Linked DNA regions of Homo sapiens. The protein of the gene in region 2 interacts with the protein of the main gene of each other region in a pairwise test. Each region holds a gene or a part of one and is shown on either strand. Other genes may lie near its edges.

Evidence for each region. The genes of interacting proteins can lie anywhere in the genome.
Region 1: the proteins of ZNF410 (region 2) and ZNF397 interact in binary tests that used the Homo sapiens proteins (3 or more experiments, as listed by UniProt).
Region 3: the proteins of ZNF410 (region 2) and TRIM35 interact in binary tests that used the Homo sapiens proteins (3 or more experiments, as listed by UniProt).

What each region holds. Positions count from the first base shown.
Region 1 is NC_000018.10:35,236,936-35,244,054, reverse strand, and holds the start of ZNF397 (zinc finger protein 397), read right to left. Parts: upstream 3,022-7,119; 5' UTR 2,946-3,021; intron 2,454-2,945; exon of another isoform or gene 2,365-2,453; intron 1,665-2,364; 5' UTR 1,585-1,664; coding exon 1,171-1,584; coding exon of another isoform or gene 1,114-1,170; intron 904-1,113; coding exon 762-903; intron 690-761; exon of another isoform or gene 581-689; intron 1-580. UniProt on the Homo sapiens protein: Isoform 3 acts as a DNA-dependent transcriptional repressor.
Region 2 is NC_000014.9:73,889,859-73,896,879, forward strand, and holds part of ZNF410 (zinc finger protein 410), read left to right. Parts: intron 1-2,168; 5' UTR 2,169-2,317; coding exon 2,318-2,350; intron 2,351-3,938; coding exon 3,939-4,074; intron 4,075-4,500; coding exon of another isoform or gene 4,501-4,551; intron 4,552-6,457; coding exon 6,458-6,676; intron 6,677-7,021. UniProt on the Homo sapiens protein: Transcription factor that binds to the sequence motif 5'-CATCCCATAATA-3', and is specifically required to silence expression of fetal hemoglobin in adult erythroid cells.
Region 3 is NC_000008.11:27,308,252-27,315,757, forward strand, and holds the start of TRIM35 (E3 ubiquitin-protein ligase TRIM35), read right to left. Parts: upstream 3,022-7,506; 5' UTR 2,985-3,021; coding exon 2,550-2,984; intron 2,416-2,549; exon of another isoform or gene 2,255-2,415; intron 1-2,254. UniProt on the Homo sapiens protein: E3 ubiquitin-protein ligase that participates in multiple biological processes including cell death, glucose metabolism, and in particular, the innate immune response.

The DNA.
Region 1 (7,119 bases), on a different chromosome or scaffold from region 2:
CATGATTCTCCATTTGCAGCTAACTTCTAAACTGCAAATCAAACTATGTCACTCCTTGTCCAAAATCCTTCAACTGCATCCCACTGCACTTAAGAAACTATACAAACAAATTAACATGACATACAGGTCTTCATGACTTGGATCCTATTTTCCTCTCTGGTTCTTCTCTTACCACCTGTCAATTCTCCATTCAAGTCAAATTAAACTACCTGCAATTTTCAGAATGGGTTATATTCTCACACCTTCGGGATGGTATGGCCTTTACTTGGGCTACTCCTCCTCCCACCTATTTACCTGGCTTTCTCTTACTCATAGTTCAAGTCTTAGCTTAGATTTTCTTCCTTCAGGAAGTGTTCCTTGATCCTCTAAGATTGGGTTAGGTGCCTTTAGATGTGCTCCAACAGTACCCACTGCCTACTTATATTCTATAATTTACTACATTGCAACTGCCTTTTTATTTGTCCATCACCCACCTAGACCTGAAACCTCTCCTGGGGCCTACCACAGTACCAGACATGTATTGACGCTTTATAAAGTTACAACATAATGAAATGAATGAATGAATAACAGGGAAACTCACACAGGAGGGCTGACAGCAATTCATGAGGGGTGAATACAAAGCCGCTAAAGCGAGCACCTCTGGTTTAGAATAATAAAGGTGATGCTCACATGTGGCAAGTTTGTCAAGTGCAATTAATTCTGCATTCTCAAAAACAGAGGCCTAAGTGTCAAGAGTTTCCAGATGATTTCCCATTCCTCACCACTTTTAGGGGAAAGGCATGGTTTCCAGGATTTCAGCTGTGTCTTTAAGGGCTGGAGGTGGATGTCTGTTGACTCTTGGGATGCTCTGAGACATGTTAAATCCTTCCATGGCACTGCTGGTCCCTGTGGACTAGCTGGGACCTGAAATCAGTAAAATATGGTTAGCTTTGTGAGAAAATCCCTAAGAAAACTTGCTTAGTAAAAATCTCAAAGAGGTCAATGATGACATCTCCAGGGATGAAGGACAGGGGAAAAAGACCATTCAAGGGTATAGACAAGTATGGCTCTATTAGTCACTTCAGGTTAGGGTTCAGTAGAGACATAAAAATTTTTATCCTACTGTTATGATACCATTACATGCTCCAGGCTGTAAATTCCTTTTCCCACATCACTTTTCTCCGTTCCCACCTGCTGCCCTGGGTCATCAAACTCCCTCTCTAAATCCTCCAACAGGGTCACAGCTTCCTCGCCGCTTTCTGGATTATGTTGCTGAACCCAGATCTGCAGCTCCTCAGGCAGAATGCTCAGGAACTGCTCCAGTACCAGCAGTTCTAAGATCTGCTCCTTTGTGTGCAACTCTGGCATTAGCCACTGATAGCAAAGTTCCTGGAGTCGGCTCAGAGCCTCCCGGGGCCCAGGTGTCTCCTGGTAGCAAAATTTTCTGAATTGCTGACGAAACAATTCTTGGCAGGATTGAGTACTCCCATTCTGCTTAAATTTCTCATCCCAGGAAAAGTTATCTTCTACTTTCACTAGTATTAGTTCTTGTTCCGGAGGATCCTGAGGTATCAGGGTTGAAATCACTCCAGATTCCACAGCCATTCTTGGCTGAAACAGCTTAGCAAAAAGCTCAGTACAACTGGTTCTGTGCTTGCGAAGGAGTGTGAGTAATCTCTTCTTTCCTGAAGGATATAAAAGCAGTTAACTTACAGCAATCAATAAAATCTCTAAGTACTTGTAATAAGAAAGATGAGTAACTTTAGTAATATATTGAAAGGGAGTAGATTTGGGGCTATCACTAAATAAAACAATAATGTGATGATAAACTAAAAATCATTAACCTCAATTAGTGTCTCCCATTATGAAGAATTCCTACCACTAATGTTAGAAAAAACTATTTTAGAAGCCTAAGAATGTGAATGCAACATTAACATCAATCACATAGTGAGAAAATTTCCTTTCCAATTCTTTCAATTCTGATTGTATCAAGGAGAAAAGTCTATCTTTAACATGTATGTATTAATAAAACTTGTAGAACTCTCTTTTAAATAAAATACAGGCTTCAGAATCAGACTTCCAAGAGTAAAAATATTTAGGCAGAATTTAGTAATACTGATTTTAAACATTTATTTTTACTTACTTTCTATCTAAAGCAAGTAATGTTGATTTTCATTTAAGGCAGTAATAACGTTTTTTTAAAAGTTCACATTAAACATGAGTTGATGTAAATATTGGATATTTGTCATTTGATCGCATTTGGTGTTTACCGAATTACTTCAACAAACACTGAGGCACTTACTGAGCATTAAGATTTTTGCTTATGAATAAACGAGTCTACAGAGGAATTGACCAAGAACCAAGACGTATCTGTAAAATGCTTACCATGTGTTCAAAAACATGATAGGTATCACATACACAAAAGCAGCAAAGAGATCCGTATCAGTTCTGAAAAAGCTTAGAATATCCCAAGACTAAAAATGTTCAAAAGCAAAATATGGTAACAAATAGGTATTAAATGTTGTGACACAGACCAAACTTGACCTGCTTTTAGGATGGCGAGATATCGATAGGAATGTATGCCCTTAGTTTGTCAGGACAGATGAGTAAAATTCATTCCTCACACTACGGTTAACGTTAAGAGATGAATTAAAATATTTAGCCTACAAATTTAAGGTTTAACCAGTCCGGCCGCACTAACTAACTAACTAACTAGCCCTTCTATTTTTATATCCTTGGTTAAACCGCAGCATTTACGAAGTCACGGGGTCAGCGGAACTGCGTTTTCCTTTGGAAAGCAGGAGTTTGAGTGCTGGCCTCCTCTGAGTTCCCCAGTCGCTTGGAGACGCCGCGCGGGCCAAAGGGCCGCGACCTGGGGATGGGCAGGCCGAGGAGCGGAGCTCCTCCACTGTCCGGCGCGCGCTCCCAACCCCACCTCCCTCTTCCTAGGGGCCCACGTCCCTCACCGCGAAGCCCAGGAGCGGCCAGGAAATGAGCCACCCACCCCGAGCTGCAAGCCACAAAGACCGGAAGTGCGCGTACGCAGTGTTCCGCTCTCGCGCCCTTCGGGTCCTCCGCCGCCCCGCCCCTTGCTCTGAGGTAGCCAATCAGAGCCGCGGGCTCTACAGTTTCCACCGCCTTCTCCCGGTAGCCGCTAGCCCGGCGGAATCTCCAAGGCCAGGGGAGGGTGCGCTAGGAGTCAGGGGTCCTTGTGAGCGGCGGCACCTGGAGGGTCCCGCATCTCGCCTGGGCCGTTCCCACCCTGGCTTTCTCCTGGCACCACCCATCATTGTTGGTCTCAAGTAATTCCCGAATCTCACTCCCAGTTTTCCATTAAAATATTCAGATTTTCGGCCGGGCGCGGTGGCCGAGGCGGGCGGATCACGAGGTCAGGAGATAGAGACCATCCTGGCTAACACGGTGAAACCCCGTCTCTACTAAAAATACAAAAATTTAGCTGGGCATGTTGGCGGGCGCCTGTAGTTCCAGCTACTCGGGAGGCTGAGGCAGGAGAATGGCGTGAACCCGGGAGGCGGAGCTTGCAGTGAACTGAGATGTGCTGCACTCCAGCCTGGGCGACAGAGCGAGACTCTGTCTCAAAAAAAAAAAAAAAAAAAAAACCTCAGATTTTCCTGTGATTCCAGTTCTTTTCCGACAAAAGTAAATGTAAGGATGAATAGGCTGAACAAAAACTAACAGTCACTTATATTGCTTTTGCCTATGAGTATCACTGGAGCCTTACAACAGTTCTGTGCTGTGGCTATATAATCCCAAATTTACAGCCGTAGACATCGCCCAAAGTCAGGCAACTTGTGACCAGGGACGTCCACGTCCCCATAGTTCAAGGAGACTGGTATCGTAGACTCCTGGAGCCTATCTTAGGGTCTTCCCGTTCTTCAGTGGAAGCTTGCTGGTATTGTCTCACTGTTTAAATTTTTCTTTGGCTATTTAGTCGGTGAAAAATGATGCCTCATGTTTCAACTTTGTGAGCTTAAGATAGTCCCCCTTCATGTTTACTGACCATTTATGGTTCTTCAGAGATGGCTTTTCCCATTTAAAAAATTAAGGGAGTAAGATTTTTCTTTTTTATTTGTGAGAATTTTTTGCTTATTAAGGATAGCAACTCGTTTGTTGCAAATCGTTTCCCATTTATTTGTATTTATTTTTAAAACGTTACATTTTACATGTTTAAATGTTACATATTTTTAAAATGTTATATTAAAAAAGTACACAGGATAATAACAAAGCGATACATACATACATAGAAACAAATTCTCCTTTGTGAGCCAAGACTTAAAACACATATTTGAGAAAAATGTTCGTTAGCATTCAAAGCTATTAGTGACTCACTAAATAATTTTATCATTGTGAAATGACTACAGCAATTTTACAAAGCAAAAAACCAAATAATATTAATTTGTTTATAAATTATCAATTGCTTCATAATGAACCACTTCAAGACTTAGTGACTAAAAACAGCAGATGTTTTATTGCTCACAGTTCTGTTGCCAGGAATTCAGGAAGGGCTTAGCGGAGATGGCTAGTCTGCTTTATGATGTGTCAGCTATCTTCACTTAACTGGGGTGGAAGGTCCAAGATGGCTTCACTCAAATTGCTGAAGTCTTGGTGTTGCCTCTTGGTTGAAGTTACTTGATTCTTCTCCACAAGGCCTCTCTCCATTCAGGAGTTTAGCCTAAGCTTTCTTACATGGTGACTGGCTTCCAAGAGAGTTAAGGAGGAGGAAAGATGCTAATTCTCTTAAAGCCTGAGTCTGGAACTGGCATTATATTTTTCTGCAGTATTCCATGACAGAAGGACTAGAATGGTGGAAAAGGGAAATAGACATTAAGCAGCTTGATCATAGGAGGAAATTTTGGCAGTTATCTTTGCATCCAACCTAACACACCTTGTTATATTGAGAAACCTACTATGTAAGAGTGAAACTATTGAAAGAGAGAAGGCATATCAGTTGAAATGCTTTTGGCTGCAGTAACAGGAACCTTACTAAATGTCCTTATTGTTCAAGCCTTTTAAAAACAAATCCTAATAGCTAGATGCATGGAGATAAAATCATTCCCAGGGTTGGTTACTTCTGCATCTGGACAATATTGTCAAGGACACAGGTTTCTTCCTTCTTTTGGCTCTGCCATCTTTAAGTGTGTTGTTCTCCAGTCTGGCTTCCTTTATGGTCCTAAAATGATTTCCTCAGTTCCAGATTACAGATAATGTTCAGAGACCAAAAAGGGGAACACCTTTATCTTTTGCCCCTTTATACGATTAAGGAAACTCTTTTTCCCTGATAGATTTCTCCATCATGTCTTATTAACTGAAATTGCTTTGAGTGCTTATGTCTATCACTAACAAGGGAGGTAAGGCCTCCATGGTGGGATTAGGACAATTGAAATTTATATCCCAGGGCTAAGGAGAAGGCCAGCCTCTCCTAAAGGACACAGACACTCTGGGGAGAATGCATGAAATTAGGGCTGTGTTAAAAAGGCAGAAAAGGGAGATAAATAGATGAATGTTGAATTTGCAACAGTAATATCTGCTTTGATAGGTAATCTGATTCCCTTGTATAGGTAAGAAAGTGAGACACTGAGAAAAAATCCAGACTCCTGTCCTTCCTTATAAGATGTTACCTATGTTTAAAATATAAAATATTAGTAATTACTTACTTGCAAGAGATGTAGATTAGAGATCTAGAGCCAGTTTCTGGGACATAGTTTAAGTTCCCACTGAGAGAGCAACTGATTACCCCATAGGACTGTAGGGCCTTAGGGCCTCCTTAGAGCCCCTTAAGGACCTTAGCCAACAATTTCCATGACTTATTTAACTTTCAGTGCTATCGGTTATATCAATGCCCTTGAAATCATTCCCTCTATCTTCCCCCATCCCCAGTTTCACATATATCCAGTCTGCTTTAATGTGAAAATATTTGCAAAATTATTGAATCAAGGGTAGAGAAGTATAATTTTTTTCTCCTCCTTCAGATGTTCTTGATTTTTGTTTCTGTTTTTTTAATGATATGTATGACAGGTGTGAAATAATGTCAGCTCCAGGCATTACCAGTGATTAGTGAGTAAGGTTGCTCATTCAGTGAAGTCCAACTGCTTGAATTACTGTATCATACAACATTGGTCTACTTTATGATATTTATCAAGTGAGATAAGCCCATTGAAAGTCTCTTAACTATAAACAACCATTCAATAATAAAGGATAGAGAAAATGGCTTCTGATGCACAAAGGAAAGGAATCATTTTCTTTTATTTTTATTTTTTATAGAAAACATTTTTTTTCATAGAGACGAGGTCTCAATATATTGCCCAGGATGGTCTTAAACTCCTGGGCTCAAGTGATCCTCCCATCTCAGCCTCCCAAAGTACTAGGATTACAGACATGAGACACCACGCCTGGCCAAATCATTTTCTCATTCAGCAAATGTTATGAAATATTTGTATATGTGAAACACTGAGAAGAAAAGTAGGGATTCAAATGAAGTAAAATATATACCCTTTCACCTCACTCATCACTGTAATTCCTAGAGTATAAATTCCATGAGGGGAAGGATTTTGTCTTCCATTGTTGTCTCTCCTGTATGGCCTAGCATTGTGTAGATATTTTGATGAATAAATGAATGAATATATAATACATATATACAAGAGGAAGTATTGATGCAAAAACTAGTGACAGTATTTGAAGCATTCAAAGAAACGGAGTATACAGGTAGGAACATTTTTAATAATATGCTTAGACTATTTTAATATGAACCCAGGATTTGTTTTTATCAGTTATGGTAAGATGACAGACACAGAGGCCATTGCCTTTACAAAAAGAGTTTTTTATTACTCACAATGTATTCTATGGCTCTTCTATGATGTCACTAATTTAGCAGTTGTATTTTTTAGAGACAGATAATAGGATGTATTAACAGAGCATGACAGTGCTTATTTGTAGTATCCAAAACAGTAAACAAAGGCCTTAGTTACTGTTGTTTCTGTTACTGTTGTTTCTGTTTGCTGCTAATGTCAAAGAAAGCCTTTGAGGTTTCTCCTGACATTCATTCTTGTATTTATCATGTATAGAACAGAGTTAAAGCTTCAGGTAGGCTGTTATTATTGTTTTATTTTTTTCAGGTTAATC
Region 2 (7,021 bases):
CGATCTCGGCTCACTGCAATCTCCATCTCCTAGGTCCAAGCGATTCCCCTACCTCAGCCTCCTGAGTAGCTGGGTCTGCAGGCACATGCCACCACACCTAGCTAATTTTTTGTATTTTAGTTGAGACGGAGTTGCACCATGTTGGCCAGGATGGTCTCAATCTCCTGACCTTGTGTTCCGCCTGCCTCGGCCTCCCAAAATGCTGGGATTACAGGCGTGAGCCACTGCTCCCGGCCTAAATGGTTACTTTTTTACAATGAAAAATGAGGATTTCAGGTAGCTTAGAAAGAGAGAGGGAGAAACCAACAGGACAAAAAAACATTTATTCAGTTACTTTTTTTTTTTTTTGAGATGGAGTCTTGCTCTGTCGCCCAGGCTGGAGTACAGTGACGCAGTCTCAGCTCACTGCAACCTCCATCTCTCGGGTTCAAGCGATTCTCCTGCCACAGCCTCCCGAGTAGCTGGGATTACAGGCACCCGCCACATGCCCGGCTAATTTTTGTATTTTTAGTAGAGACGGGGTTTCGCCATATTGGCCAGGCTGGTCTTGAACTCCTGACCTCAGGTGACCCACCCGCCTCGGCCTCCCAAAGTGCTGGGTTTACAGGCGTGAGCCACCGTGCCCAGCCTAAGTGCCCTCTTTGTAAAGTCTGTCTTGTTCTACCTTTCCACACTACCTGGTATTAATTGGAAACTTTAAAGTACCCATTGATTGAAAATATACCCATCCTGGATACATTTTACACTGTATGATTATTTGTAATAGTGCTCCCAATTTTAGTAACAATTGTACAAAATAAAATGGACTCACATTCCAAAATCCTGAAAAGAAACTAAGCTATAAGAAAGTAAGAATTTAAGTTATAGGGAGTGGCTGGGCGCAGTGGCTCACACCTGTAATCTCAGCACTTTGGGAGGCCACGGCAGGCGGATCACCTGAAGTTGGGAGTTCGAGACCAGCCTGACCAACATGGAGAAACCGTCTCTACTAAAAATACAAAATTAGCCAGGTGTGGTGTCTCATGCCTGTAATCCCAGCTACTCCAGGAGTCTGAGGCAGAATTGCTTGAACCTGGGAGGCAGAGGTTGTGGTGAGCTGAGATCGTGCCATTGTGCTCCAGCCTGGGCAACAAGAGCAAAACTCCATCTCTAAATAAATAAATAAAAGAGAGAGAACAGCCGCATCAGGGTCCTGAGAGCACTACCTTTGGGAAACGCTCTTCAAATTTTAACTTTTTTTTTTTTAAATGTAATTTTAAAAATTATCAAAACAATATGGTTGCCTTTTAGAAATATTGGAAAATTGAGAAAAGAAAATTAAGTCACACCAGCCTACCACACGGTATAGCTACGGTCATAGCTGTATGAATCTCCTTTTACTTTTTCTGATGCTTATTATAACTAGTTTTAATAATAGCAAGTATATAATTTTGTATTTTATTTTTATAATTTAACATGTCAGTCACTTGTTGTTGCATTGTCTTCATAGCATTTGTTTGTTGGTTTGTTTTTTGAGATAGAGTCTTGCTCTGTCGCCCAGGCTGGAGTGCAGTGGTCTGACCTTGGCTCACTGCAACCTCCACCTCCTGGGTTCAAGGGATTCTCCTGCCTCAGTCTCCCGAGTAGCTGGGATTACAGGTGCCTGCGACCATGCTCAGCTAATTTTTGTATTTTTAGTAGAGAGGGGGTTTCACTATGTTGGCCAGGCTGGTCTCGAACTATTGACCTCAAGTGATCCACCTGCTTCAGCCTATCAAAGTGCTGGGATTACAGTTGTAAGCCACCACACCCAACCCTTCACAGCATATTTTGAAGTGACAGTGCCATATTTAATCAACCATTCCCTAATTGGGGGTGTGTGTGTGTGTATACATTGCTTCCAGTTGTTTATTACATAGGATAAGACGGACATCTTTGGACATAGCTCTATCCATATTTAAGATAGTTTTTTAGATTATTAGAGGTTGAAATACTGCATCAAAGCGTAGTATTTTTATGGGTTTTGATGCCTGTTGAGCTTGTTGTATTTTAAAAGAAGTGTTTCGGTTTGAATTCTTTATTTGCTTGCTTGTTGTGATTTTTTTTGTATATGTAAAGAAGTGTCTTTATGTACCTGTGTTTTCCCACTGCTCTTAATGCCCCCTCTCTCTTTTTTACCCCTATTCTAGGTTACATTGATTACCCACCTAGTACAACATCTTACGGGAAGAGCATAGTATTTCCTAGAGGAATATGAACATAACAGGAAGGTATCATTGGCTCTGAATTAAATTTGAACTTGTCCCCTGAATAGCTACAGGTTTTGGAAGCTGAATCAATGTTATCAGATGAGTTAGAATCCAAACCAGAGGTGAGCCCAGTCAGCTTGTTTCCTTTTCTTTTGGTGGGCTATATTTCAAAGTTTATCTTCAGTTTAGGGGGTCAGCAAACTTTTTCTTTAATGGGCCAGATAATAAATATTTTAGGTTTTTTAAGCTATATGGTTTTGATTGTTACTATTTTTTCAAAGATTTAAAAATTATATTTTTTGTGATTGTTTTTATATCTGTTTTTCAGTATATGTGAAATCATACATTTAGATAATGTAATAAAATCTTATAAATAAAAATATATGTTTATGTATAAATATATACATAAATATGAGATACATGTGATGTATAGGTGTATAAGTATATAAATATTTACTACTACAAATTCTTTTGTTTATTTTATATATATCTGTAAGTATTTTCTTTCTAAATGTGATTGGGGATTTAAACATTTTTTGTTGTTCACTTTTCTTACTTTAAATTTAGCACATCTGTGTTGCAGAGTGGTCACTGAATTTGGAATCAGATTACTTAAATTTGAGGATTGGCATTGCTCCTAACTAGTCTTGTGACCTTAGACAAGTCACTTAATGTCTTCAATTTTATTCCTCAGCTGTAAAATATGCCTTAAGTTTGGGTGCGGTGGCTCACGCCTGTAATCCCAGCACTTTGGGAGGCCGAGGCAGGTGGATCATGAGGTCAGGAGTTCAAGACCATCCTGCCTAACATGGTGAAACCCTGTCTCTACTAAAAATACAAAAAAAATTAGCTGGGCGTGGTGGCGGGCACCTGTAGTCCCAGCTACTTGGGAGGCTGAGGCAGGAGAATGGCGTGAACCCAGGAGGTGGAGCTTGCAGTGAGCCAAGATCATGCCACTGCACTCCAGCCTGGGCAACAGAGCAAGACTCTGTCTCAAAAAAAAATACATCTTAAATCTTACTGGGTTAATGCGATAATTAAATGAGCCAGTACACAGAAAAGTGTTTTGTAAAATGTAATCAATATGATGCAGTTGATTTTTTTTAAGCCATTATTTTAAAATGTAATTATTTTTATCATTTCTCTGTTTGACAGAAGGTGGCAGAGGTTAACTTAATTACAGTGAAGTGTCACTTAGCGATAGAGATACATTCTGAGAAATATGATGGTAGTTGATATCATTATTATGCGAACATGGTAGAGTATACTTACACAAACCTGTATGGTTTAGCCTGCTACACTCTAGGCTGTATGGTATACCTTATTGCCCCTAGGCTGCAAACCTATACAGCATGTTACTGTACTGAATACTGTAGGCAGTTGAAGCACAGTGGTAAACATTGTGTATCTAAACATATCTAAACGTGGAAAAAGTACAATAAAAATAGGATATTACAATCTCACAGGACCATCATCCTATATGTGGTCTGTTAACTGAAATGTCGTTTTGCAGCACATGACTTTATATAAATCAGCTGTTCTCTAGAACAGAGAACTTGATAAAATAACTTTAGATATTATGTTGTTTAGTTTTTGTTTGAATATGGATGAGACTAGTGAACAGTCTTAATATTATCTTTTGGTAAATTCAAAGGTTTAGATACATTTCTAACAACTCGTATTTCTCAGTGTTGTCTTTTCTCCCCCCAGCTCCTGGTACAGTTTGTTCAGAATACGTCCATCCCATTGGGACAGGGGCTTGTAGAATCAGAAGCTAAAGATATTACTTGCTTGTCCCTCCTTCCCGTGACTGAAGCCTCAGAATGCAGTCGGCTAATGTTACCAGGTAAAAATTAAGATCACTAGAAATAGGATAAAGAAGTCTTAAGAGCTTAGCCTACTCTATGTTACTGGTGGAATGAATATATCGTTTAATAACTGACTGGTGGAAACTGTAAAAATTAGGAGTCATGGAGAAAAAGCAACCATGAAATCATTAGTGCATTGGTAGTTTAAGCCATAGGAATGGATATGATCACCCAGAGAGTGTGAGAGTGGGGAAAAAAGGTCAGTGCAAAACTATGGAACTCTTTATTTAAGGTACAGGGTAGGGCAGGAGAACTTGTAAAGGAGGGAAGAAACAAAGACTAAAATAGTTGGATGAACATCAGCAGAGTGGAGGCATGAAACCCAGGAGAAATCATTGTATCAAATGCTACTGACAGGCCCAGTGAAATAGGGACTAAAAGGACTCCATTATTGACTTTGGCAGAACCTGTTCCATGGAGAGAAGAGGATGGAAAGTCAGGCTGCAGTGACTTGAGTATACATACTTGCTTTTTTTTTTTTTTTTGAGATGGAGTGTCACTCTGTCGCCCAGGCTGGAGTGTAGTGACGCAATCTTGGCTCACTGCAACCTCCGCCTCCCCTCCCAGGTTCAAGCTATTCTCCTGCCTCAGCCTCCTAAGTAGCTGGGATTACAGGTGCGTGCCACTATGCCTGGCTAATTTTTGCATTTTTAGTAGAAACGGGGTTTCACCATGTTGGCCAGGCTGGTCTTGAACTCCTGACCTCCAGTGATCAGTCCGCCTTGGCCTCCCAAAGTGCTGAGATTACAGGCGTGAGCCACTGCGCCAGGCCTATCAATACATACTTTCTAAAGTCTCTCCTGGTACGAGAAGGAAAAAGAGAAGGCGGTAAGATAGAGGGAAATTTTTTGTTTGTGTTAAGATCTGAGATATTTGAGGGTTGCTTTATGCTAAGGGGAAAGAACCAGTTAGAAAAGTTGAAGACAGGCCAGGTGTGGTGGCTCGTGCCTGTAATCCCAGCACATTGGGAGGCTGAGGCAGGAGGATAGCTTGAGCCCAGGAGATTGAGACCAGCCTGGGCAACATGGCGAGACCTCGTCTCTACAAAAAATTAAAAATTAGCTGGGCATGGTGGTGTGCAGCTGTAGTCCCAGCTGAGGTGGGAAGATCACTTGAGCCCAGGAGTTTGAGGCTGCAGTAAGCTGTGATCACACCACTGTACTCCATCCTGGGTGGATAGAGCAACACCCTGTCTAAAAGAAATAGTAATAAATTTAAAAAATATATGTATAAACAAACAATAATTAAGGAAATGAAAACAACAGCGTTCATCTTCCCTTAGAATGACTGTTATCTTAAAGATGGAAGATAACAAGTGTTGGTAAGGATATGGAGAAAAGGGAACCTTTGTACACTGTTGGTGGGAATGTAAGTTAGTACAGCCATTATGGAAACCGTATGGAAGTTCCTCAGAAAACTAAAAATGGAGCCACTATATGACCCAGCAATCTCACTTGTAGGTATATATCCAAAGGAATTGAAATCAGTAAGTCAAAGATGTCTATACTTACATGTTAATTGCAGCATTATTCACAATAACCAAGATATGGAATCAGCTTTAGTGTTCATCAACTAATGAATGCATTTAAAAAAAAATGCATTCACCTTCTTTTCCACATTTCTTTTAGTTTTAATTTTGATTTAAAGTATTTTAGACATACAAGTATAGATAAAAGTAAATGAAAATCCAAATACTTGGCCTCCCAGCTCATAAAACACAATATTACAGGCCGGGCGTGGTGGCTCATGCCTATAATCCCAGCACTTTGGGAGGCCGAGGTGGGTGGATCACTTAAGGTCAGGAGTTTGAGACCAGCCTGGCTGGTGAAACCCTCTCTACTAAAAATGCAAAAGTTAACCAGGTGTGGTGGCACAGAAAAAATAACCGCAGCCTGAGATACAACCATAGGTAAAAAGGTAATGGCAAAAACTGCAATAGCTTTTGCACCAACCTAATACAAAAGTTAAGGAGAGGGAGCTCTCTCCAGGAAAAATAAAATGTAGATCCTATTCTTGAGTTAGTATTCATTGTATAGCTATATTTTTCAAGGAGAAAGTACTGATTTCTGGCCTCAAAAAGGACTAAATTCTGTGATGTCCAAATGTTGAATGGTTGGTTATTCACCAACCATTACTGCCAAGTGACAGAGAATTCTGTTCCTCACGTTTTGGCTGACTGCCTTTGGAACATAAAGCCATCTCTCTGTTCTTCTGTGAGACAAAGTTTTTATTTGTGTAATGAGAATGCTGTCTGTTGCTATAAGGATGTTAGCTTCCAAGAGATGTTGGGTGCTGTGTATCAAAATGGTGGGCTCCTAGAGATAGGTGCTACATAAAGCTGTGGTATTTTCCCTTTACTAGATGATACTACAAATCATTCTAACTCCTCCAAGGAGGTCCCTTCCTCAGCTGTTTTGAGAAGCCTTCGGGTGAATGTGGGTCCAGACGGAGAGGAGACGAGAGCTCAGACTGTACAGAAATCCCCGGAGTTTTTGTCCACTTCAGAGTCTTCTAGCTTGTTGCAAGATCTACAGCCAAGTGATAGCACTTCTTTTATTCTTCTTAACCTAACAAGAGCAGGTATTCTTTCCTTTTTTTTGGGCTCTGCTTATGCCTAAGAAAAAAATTAGGGGTGGGGCATATTTAACTTAGTCATACTTAAAATAGAAAGAACCTTTATTATTTTATTATTTTGGAGAATTGGTGTGTCTGGTGACCATTTGAATATGTAGAGGGAGAGGGAGGACTCTAGTATGACTCATATCTTGTTTGGGAAATTATGTAGTGCCATTTACTGAGATCGCACAGGAAGAGCAAGGCTTGGGGGAGGATGATTAGTTCCAATTTGCACCTATTTATGTTGAGATTTTGGAGGTATATTCAGGAGGACATGTCCTTTAGAGAGTTAGAAACATGAATCCAGAG
Region 3 (7,506 bases), on a different chromosome or scaffold from region 2:
AGGACCTGAAAATACGTTTTTGTGAGCATTAAATTTGTTGACGTGTGAACACTGAAAAGCATCTAGCACACAGTGAGCACTGAAATGTGTTAGCTGGGATGATTTTGACTTTGCTGTTCCTCACATAGATAGTTGGCAAAGTAATCTTTCTCTAAAACACACATCCCATCACAAACTCCCCTGTTTAGAATCTTTCAGAGCTCCCCACAGCACAAAACGGAAAACCCCCTCAGTGAGGCACACAGCTTCTTACCCAGTCCCTTCTTACCAAGTGGTGGAGGGAATCTTCCCATACCGCTCCCCCACAACCACCTACCTTGAATCACACAGAACTACATCTTGTCTATTGACTGTCTATGCCCCCTGCTCAAATGAGAATTCCATGAAGCTAAGAAGAGGCCACAGCACACAACAGCCATCAGTACCCATTTGTCTAGTAAATGAGTGATTTGCACCCTGCATCAGGCTGACCACACCTGGCTCTCATTCTTCTCAGATCCATTTGGGACTAGACTACTCAGCCCCTGACATCATCCTGAGTGTCCACTGACTTGACACCATCATTCTTCTGCTAAAACCCCCAGCTGCTGTTCACAGCAAGGGTGAGCCACCGGCCTCCTGGATCCTCCTGCACGTCCCTCCTCATTCTAACTACCCTTAAATTCCCTCAGTGCCTAGAAAGTCAGGCTTTCCCACTTCTGGACCCTTCCAAATGCTGCTGCCTCTATCTGAAATACCCTCTTTCACCTGGCTAACACCTCCTCTTCCCTCGGGTCTCTGCTGGAAGCTCCTTGAGGCTGGAAATGGTCTATCTTGTCTCCTGCAGTATCCCTGGGACCTTGCAGTACCAGGCATCTGCTGGTGCATGGCTCTCTGCTCTTGAATCCTGGCTTGGCCCCAGCCTGGGGGCTCTGCCTGGGTGTTCTCAGCCCTGACCCCAGCATCTCCTGATCAGCACCTCGGCCAGCCAAATAGGCATCAGTCATGACCTGAACCATGATCCCTCCTTTACCTGGGCCCCAGACCCCTGGCTGGCCAGCACTTATTCCAGCTGTCCCAAATCAGGATCTGTCACTTCTGCCAGTGGAAACAGGAAAAGCATTGACATGGACCCATGTTAAACAAAAAAGATGACAGGAGTAACAGGGTTACTCATTGAGACATGCGTACTGACAGCATCCTTACATTCCCCTTCAATTAAACTTTGTCAAATGCATTTGGAGCGGAACAGACTTCCGTATTTAAAAAGGTATTGCAAAAAAAGAAGGCAGGGCCACAGAGGGGGCCAGAAACCAGGCACAGGGGACTCGGGCAGCTCCTCCTCTCCAGTCCATGCAGCTTCGGGCCAGCTACCCAGTGTTCTCCCAATTGGGGCTCTGACTCATGCATTAGCAGGTGATGAAATAAATTCAATGTTTCACATTCTGGGTAATTTTTAAAAGTAACAGAGGCCAGGCGGAGTGGCTCACGCCTGTAATCCCAGTAGTTTGGGAGGCAGAGGAGGGCAGATCACTTGAGGCCAGGAGTTCCAGACCAGCCTGGCCAACATGGTGAAACCCTGCCTCTACTAGAAATTAAAAAAAAAAAAAAATTAGCCAGGCGTGTTGGTACATGCCTGTAATCTCAGCTACTCGGGAGGCTGAGGCACCAGAATCGCTTGAACCCAGGAGGCGGAGGTTGCAGTGAGCTAAGAGCACGCCACTGCACTCTAACCTGGGCGATAGAGGTCTCAAAAAAAAAAAAAAACAAAGGGAAGTAACAGAAAATATCAGAGTGCCATGGACATGTTCAGAAAACTTTTGTTTCAACTGATACATATGTTCTGGGTCACAAGGGAAAATGCATTGCTTCCTATGGGCTAAGATTAAACGTTTTGGAAAATGCTGAGTTAGGCTAACCCTTATCTTCTATTCATTTTTCCTTCCTATATCAAAGAATTCTCCATGTTAGTTTTGCCCTGTAAGTTGCTCCTGGGTTTATGTATAGTCACTAGAACTCTAGATATGGAGATGCTGCTTTATAAACCAGAATAGGCCAGCCAGCCAGGGTCAGAGACCTCTCACTCAGATAATACAAACCGCGGGATCAGCTTGGCAAGTAGGTGACTGGTTTGGGGGAAATCTTAAGACTCCACACCCCTGGCCAGGTCTGTGGCTCCTCCTCCACTTCTAAATTGAGTGTGCCAAGCTACAGGGCTCGTGGGCTGCACCCACATCCGTGCCGCTTAAAGGGACCTGGGCCACACCCGGCTGGCACAAGGGGTGCATGGCCTGGGCCCTTCAGAAGCAAGTGTCGCTGTCTTGGGAACATCATGTAACCTCATCTGTCACTTTCCGTTCGCATTCTCTTCTCCCAGCACGGGCCCCTGGGCCGACCTTGAAGAAGCAGCCAGCCCTGAGAACCTGGGTCGGAGAGGTGGGGTCCTGCATGCTGGGAGCGAGACGCGGGCACACTGGGCTCTGGCAGGCAGGAGGGGCGGGAGCCGCAGAGCCAAGGGATTCCGGGTTCCAGACCCGGCTCGGCCGCCTCGTGCAAATCGCTGCTCTTACCCGAAAGTCGTGGGCAGTGTCCTTCACCGGCTGCACGCGGTGCCCCTGGTGTCGGGGGTCGGCCTGGCAGGAGCAGCACAGCAGCTCCTTGTCCTCGAGGCAGAAGAGGCTGAGCTGTCCGCGGTGCAGGCGGCAGACACGCGAGAAGCGGTAGCTGGTCCAGCGCGCGCCCTCGGCCTCCTCGCGCAGCAGCTTCTCCACCAGGTTGTTGAGGGTGTGGTTGGTGCGCAGGTCGGCGGGTGACGCGCGGTCTTTGCACACTGGGCAGGTGGGCGACACCTGCACCTCCCAGCAGCGGCTCACGCACCCGCGGCAGAAGTTGTGGCCGCAGCGCAGAGTGACTGCGTCGCGGAAGGGGTCGTAGCAGACGGCGCAGAGCAACTCCTCCTTGAAGGAGCGGGAAGGCCCGGGGGACACGTCGGGACTCCGCTCCATGGCACGAGCAGCCGGCTCGGGCGCCCGGAACTTTTGCTCCGGCCCCTCCCACCCGCCCGGCTGCCAACGCCCGCGACCCGAGTGCTGGGAATCGCCCAGTCCCTTCCCCTGGAACGCTGAGAGACAGCGGCGCTGGCCAATCGTGCGGGGGGGATGGCGAGGGGGAGGGAGGGGGCGCTCGGAGGAGCCCCACCCACTTCCGGTGTGCGCGGGAAATCTTGGGAGAGCGGGGTGGGCCTTCTGCCCGCAGTTCCCGCCTCCTCAGGTCCGGGCGGGTCCCTGGCCGGGGTAGCACGGAAGGGTCTCCCAGGCGGCGTAGTAGGGCTTCCGTGTTACTGGAAACCTACTTCCGGCTGCAAATGGGAAAAGGAGCCTCTACCTTAACCAATCCCCGGGAACCTCAGGCCCGCGGATGGGAGAAACCAGAGATGCCAACTTCCTGCTTCCGAAGTAGTGGCTGGGTCTTAAAGCACCGTGAGTGCAATCACCACTTAAGTTTGCAGCGCCTTTTTGAGGACCTATGCCACTCTTGCATTAGTCGTTTACTTATTTTGGCCAGTCTTCTTCTGGCCCGCCGCGGTAAGGAGAAACAAGAGAGGGGTGGCGGCAGAAGAGCTCCGAGAAAACCTGATTCTTGTCCTGTGGTTGAAAAAGTGAACAGGTCATCATGTTTCAAAGTCCATTTACTCATGAGTACAATGGCTGTAATAGCTCTGTTTCCATGAAGTGTGAGGATAAAGTGAAATAAATGTGGAAAGTGCTCATGACAACCACTGTTTTAATGGGCAAGTGCCCATTAAAACAGTGAAATTGAGGACTTCTGCAAAGTTTAGCTGAGATAACTAGAGTTCATGCTCAATTCTTGCCAGGTACAGTAGGCCTGGATGGTTCCTTCAGATCTTCATTCCTGCTTCAGTTTGATCACTTTACAGCCTCCAGATGCAGAATACTTTTCACACGATGCACTTTCATTCCTTTTCTATTGGGAGACAATTCACATGTGTCATGTTCCTGCATGTCTTGAGAGAGCAGAGGCACTGACTGCCTTTTTCCAACTATCTTTTCAAGGATGTTTCTGCATTGAATAGCCCTGGAAGACAGAATTCTTGTCTCTCCAAAGATCTGGCAGACTTATTCCCAATTATAAGAGATGTGAGTTTCCTAAACTTGGGGCCCCTCTCCTGTAATGCAACCTACTGTAGCCTTCATCACATAGTCTTGCAAGAATTAGGGCTCAGAAACTGGCCCAATGACAATACTGTGACTACTATTATTGCTGTTAGTATTATCCTTTGTCTCTGACCCAGGAGTTTCATCTTTTAGCAGTATTCATGAAATTTTGGCATGCAAACTTGTTAGTGTTGAAACTCAGAAAACAATACCCCAAAATGGCCTCAAAAGCAGAAATTTTTCTCTGCCCTCCTATCTCTCAGTCCCCCAAGGATAGCCATAGAAATTAGAATTCCTTTTCCCCAAGGCAGGTCATAGAAACCAGAACCCCTTTTTCCTAAAGCCAGTCTTGAAACCTTAAAATATTACTCTTTCTCTCTGCCTTTCTGTGGAATAACTGGCCATAAAGAAATTATCTGACCTACCTTGTTTGACTGTAGGCCATAAGAGCCCGATTCCAGAGAGGGTCCTACCCCATACCTGTTAGGGGTAGAAGGTGTCTGAGTTAACAGCAGTGAATCTGTATGGGTCTGCAGCAACCTCAATTCTTGCCTCCTTGGAAGAAAGAATTAGACTGAGGGGCATGATATGGTTTGGCTGTGTCCCCACCCCAAATCTCATCTTGAATTGTAATCCCCATAATTCCCACGTGTCAAGGGAGAGACCAGGTGGAGGTAATTGAATCACAGGGGTGGTTTTCCCCCCATGCTGTTCTCCTGATAGTGAGTGAGTTCTCACGAGATCTGATGGTTTTATAAGTGTTTGGTAATTCCTCCTGTGTTCATTCTCCTTCCTGCAGCCTTGCAAAGGAGGTGTCTTGCTTCACCTTCACCTTCCACTGTGATTGTAAGTTTTCTGAGGCCTCGCCAGCCATGCGGAACTGTGAGTCAATTAAACCTCTTTCCTTTATAAATTACCCAGTCAGTCTAAGGCAGTTCTTTATAGCAATGTGAAAATGGACTAATACAGGGCATAAGGCAGAAAAAGCAACTGAGGCAAGTTTCAGAGCAAGAGTGGAAGTTTATTAAAAAGTTTGGGACAGAAAAGAAAGTACACTTGGAAGAGACCCAAGCGGGCAACTTGAGGGACAAGTGTGGCATTTAACCCTGATCCTGGGACTTCATATGCTGGCCCACTTCTGGAGTCTTGCTGCCCTCTCCCTTCATTCTTCCCTCAGTGTGAGCTGCCCGAATGCACAGTGCCCTCCCTATGCTTGGGAGGTGAGCATGCACCATGTGCTTAGGAATTTGTACACATGCCCATCTGAGGCTTTCTTCCCTTTTCCAGTGGAATGCCCCCGGAAGGTCATACTCCACTATTTTGTCTCTTAATGTGCATGCCCAAGCTCACTCACCCAATTTCTGAAATTTTATTGGAAGCTGATTACCAATCTCAAGTGTTTTTATCTGTTTGGGAAATTGCCTATGCCTGGCACCTGCTTTAATATCAATTAACATCAAGTAACACTTTAGTGACAGCTGTGGACCATCAGGGAATTGTCTCTCTCCCTCTCTCTGGCCCATCTGCCAAATTATCCATTTTAGAAAGGCAGTGTGATAACTGTGAAACCATCACCTGGCATTCTTGCTTGAGGGGATTGGGGAGGGTAGAGTCCTCTCCTGCCCTGCTCATGCCTGTCTAACTACCTGTAACATACCTGGAAGGAAGAAATGCATGTTCGTAGAGGCCAAGAAAAATCTAGACAGACAGGCCTAGGTTCCCCACTCAGTTTATTAACATTAGCTCATACCCTTTTGTTCAATCATATTTCTACACAGCTACTCATACTTTGCTGAACCTAAGCATGAAAATGAGCCATTTCCAGTCTATCTTTAGGTCTTCATTCTGAAGGCTCCCATGTCACATAAAACTATGATCAGGCCAGGCATGGCGGATCGGGCCAGGTGCCAGTGGTGGCTCACACCTGTAACCCCAGCACTTTGGGAGGTCGAAGAAGGCCTTGAGCTCACAAGTTCAAAACCAGCCTGGGCAACATAGCAAAACCCCGTCTCTACAAAAAATACAACGGGCGCGTGTGGTGGTGTGCGCCTATAGCCTGAGGCAGGAAAATAGGGTCTGGAGGCAGGGAACATAAGGCCAATTCACACTTCAGCTGCGACAGCAAATATCCTCCCCATAGGGCGTAGGCCAAGTAAATAACTTTGTAACTTTACTTCATCCTCTCCATTTACATAGGGCGTACCCCAGGTAACCAATGGAGTCCTCCAGAGGGTATTTAAACCCCCAAAAGTTCTGTAATGGGGCCTTTGAGCCCCTATCTCAGGCCGGTTCCCACACTGTGGAGTTTACTTTCATTTTCCATAAAACCCTTCATGCCTTCCCTGCTTAGTTTGTGCGTTTTTTCCAATTCTTTGTTCAAGATGCCAATAACCTGGACACCCTCCACCATTAACAGTCCCAGCTACTCTGGAGGCTGAGGTGGGAGAATCGCTTGAATCCGGGAGGTGGCAGTGAGTCGAGATTGTGCCAGTGCACTCCAGCCCAGGTGACAGAGCCAGACCCTGTCTCAAAAAAATAAATAAACTTCTATCCCTTTCCTCTTCTTAACCTTTTTGTCAGTGATTTGCAGTGAAACTTCAAGGGGCAAAGGAGACGTTTTCCCTTGGCCCACACATTAGCTTGCAAGTAGGGTAAAATCTCAGACCTTTAAAGTTCTTAATAATTTCTTTCCACACTTTTCCTCAGCATAGTCCTTTCCTCACAATGACAAGGGATGAATACCACTAACTCTAATTGCCTTCAGTGTTTCTTAAATGTGGTTCATGGTTCTCCTGCAATTACCTGGGGAGTTTTCTAAAAGCAGTTTCCTGGGCCCACTTTAATCTACTCATCTCTCTTGTGGAAAGTGAGGCCCAGGAATCTTCATTTTCACTTGCATGCTAGGTGATTCTGAGGTGCAAGAAAGTTTGAAAGCAATTATCCTAGATCTATTCACCCAACAAGTTGTTGGGTCTCCAGCTATGGTTGGTTAGTGGTTCAAAAATTAACCTTAGAGGCAATATCCAAAAAAGCCACAAGATGGGGCTAACAACGCTACACTCCAGATAGCCCTCTCCCCTCCCCCCAACGCAGAGACTCTTACGTCGTCTCATTCTCTTTCACTGTGTTCTCTTATCTCTGTGTCCCAGTTGTGTTGTGAATCGATATGTGTTGCTGTCTATGTGTTTCATTCTGTTCTTACCTGATCTTCCTTATTTTGTTGGGTCTTTTTTTTTTCTCATATTCTGAATGGGGCCACAAATCAAAAACAAGAAGGAAGAGTAGAAATTGTATCTTTTAAACTACAATACAAAGGTTAACATTAAACCAATAAGGCTCTTCAATCATTCTG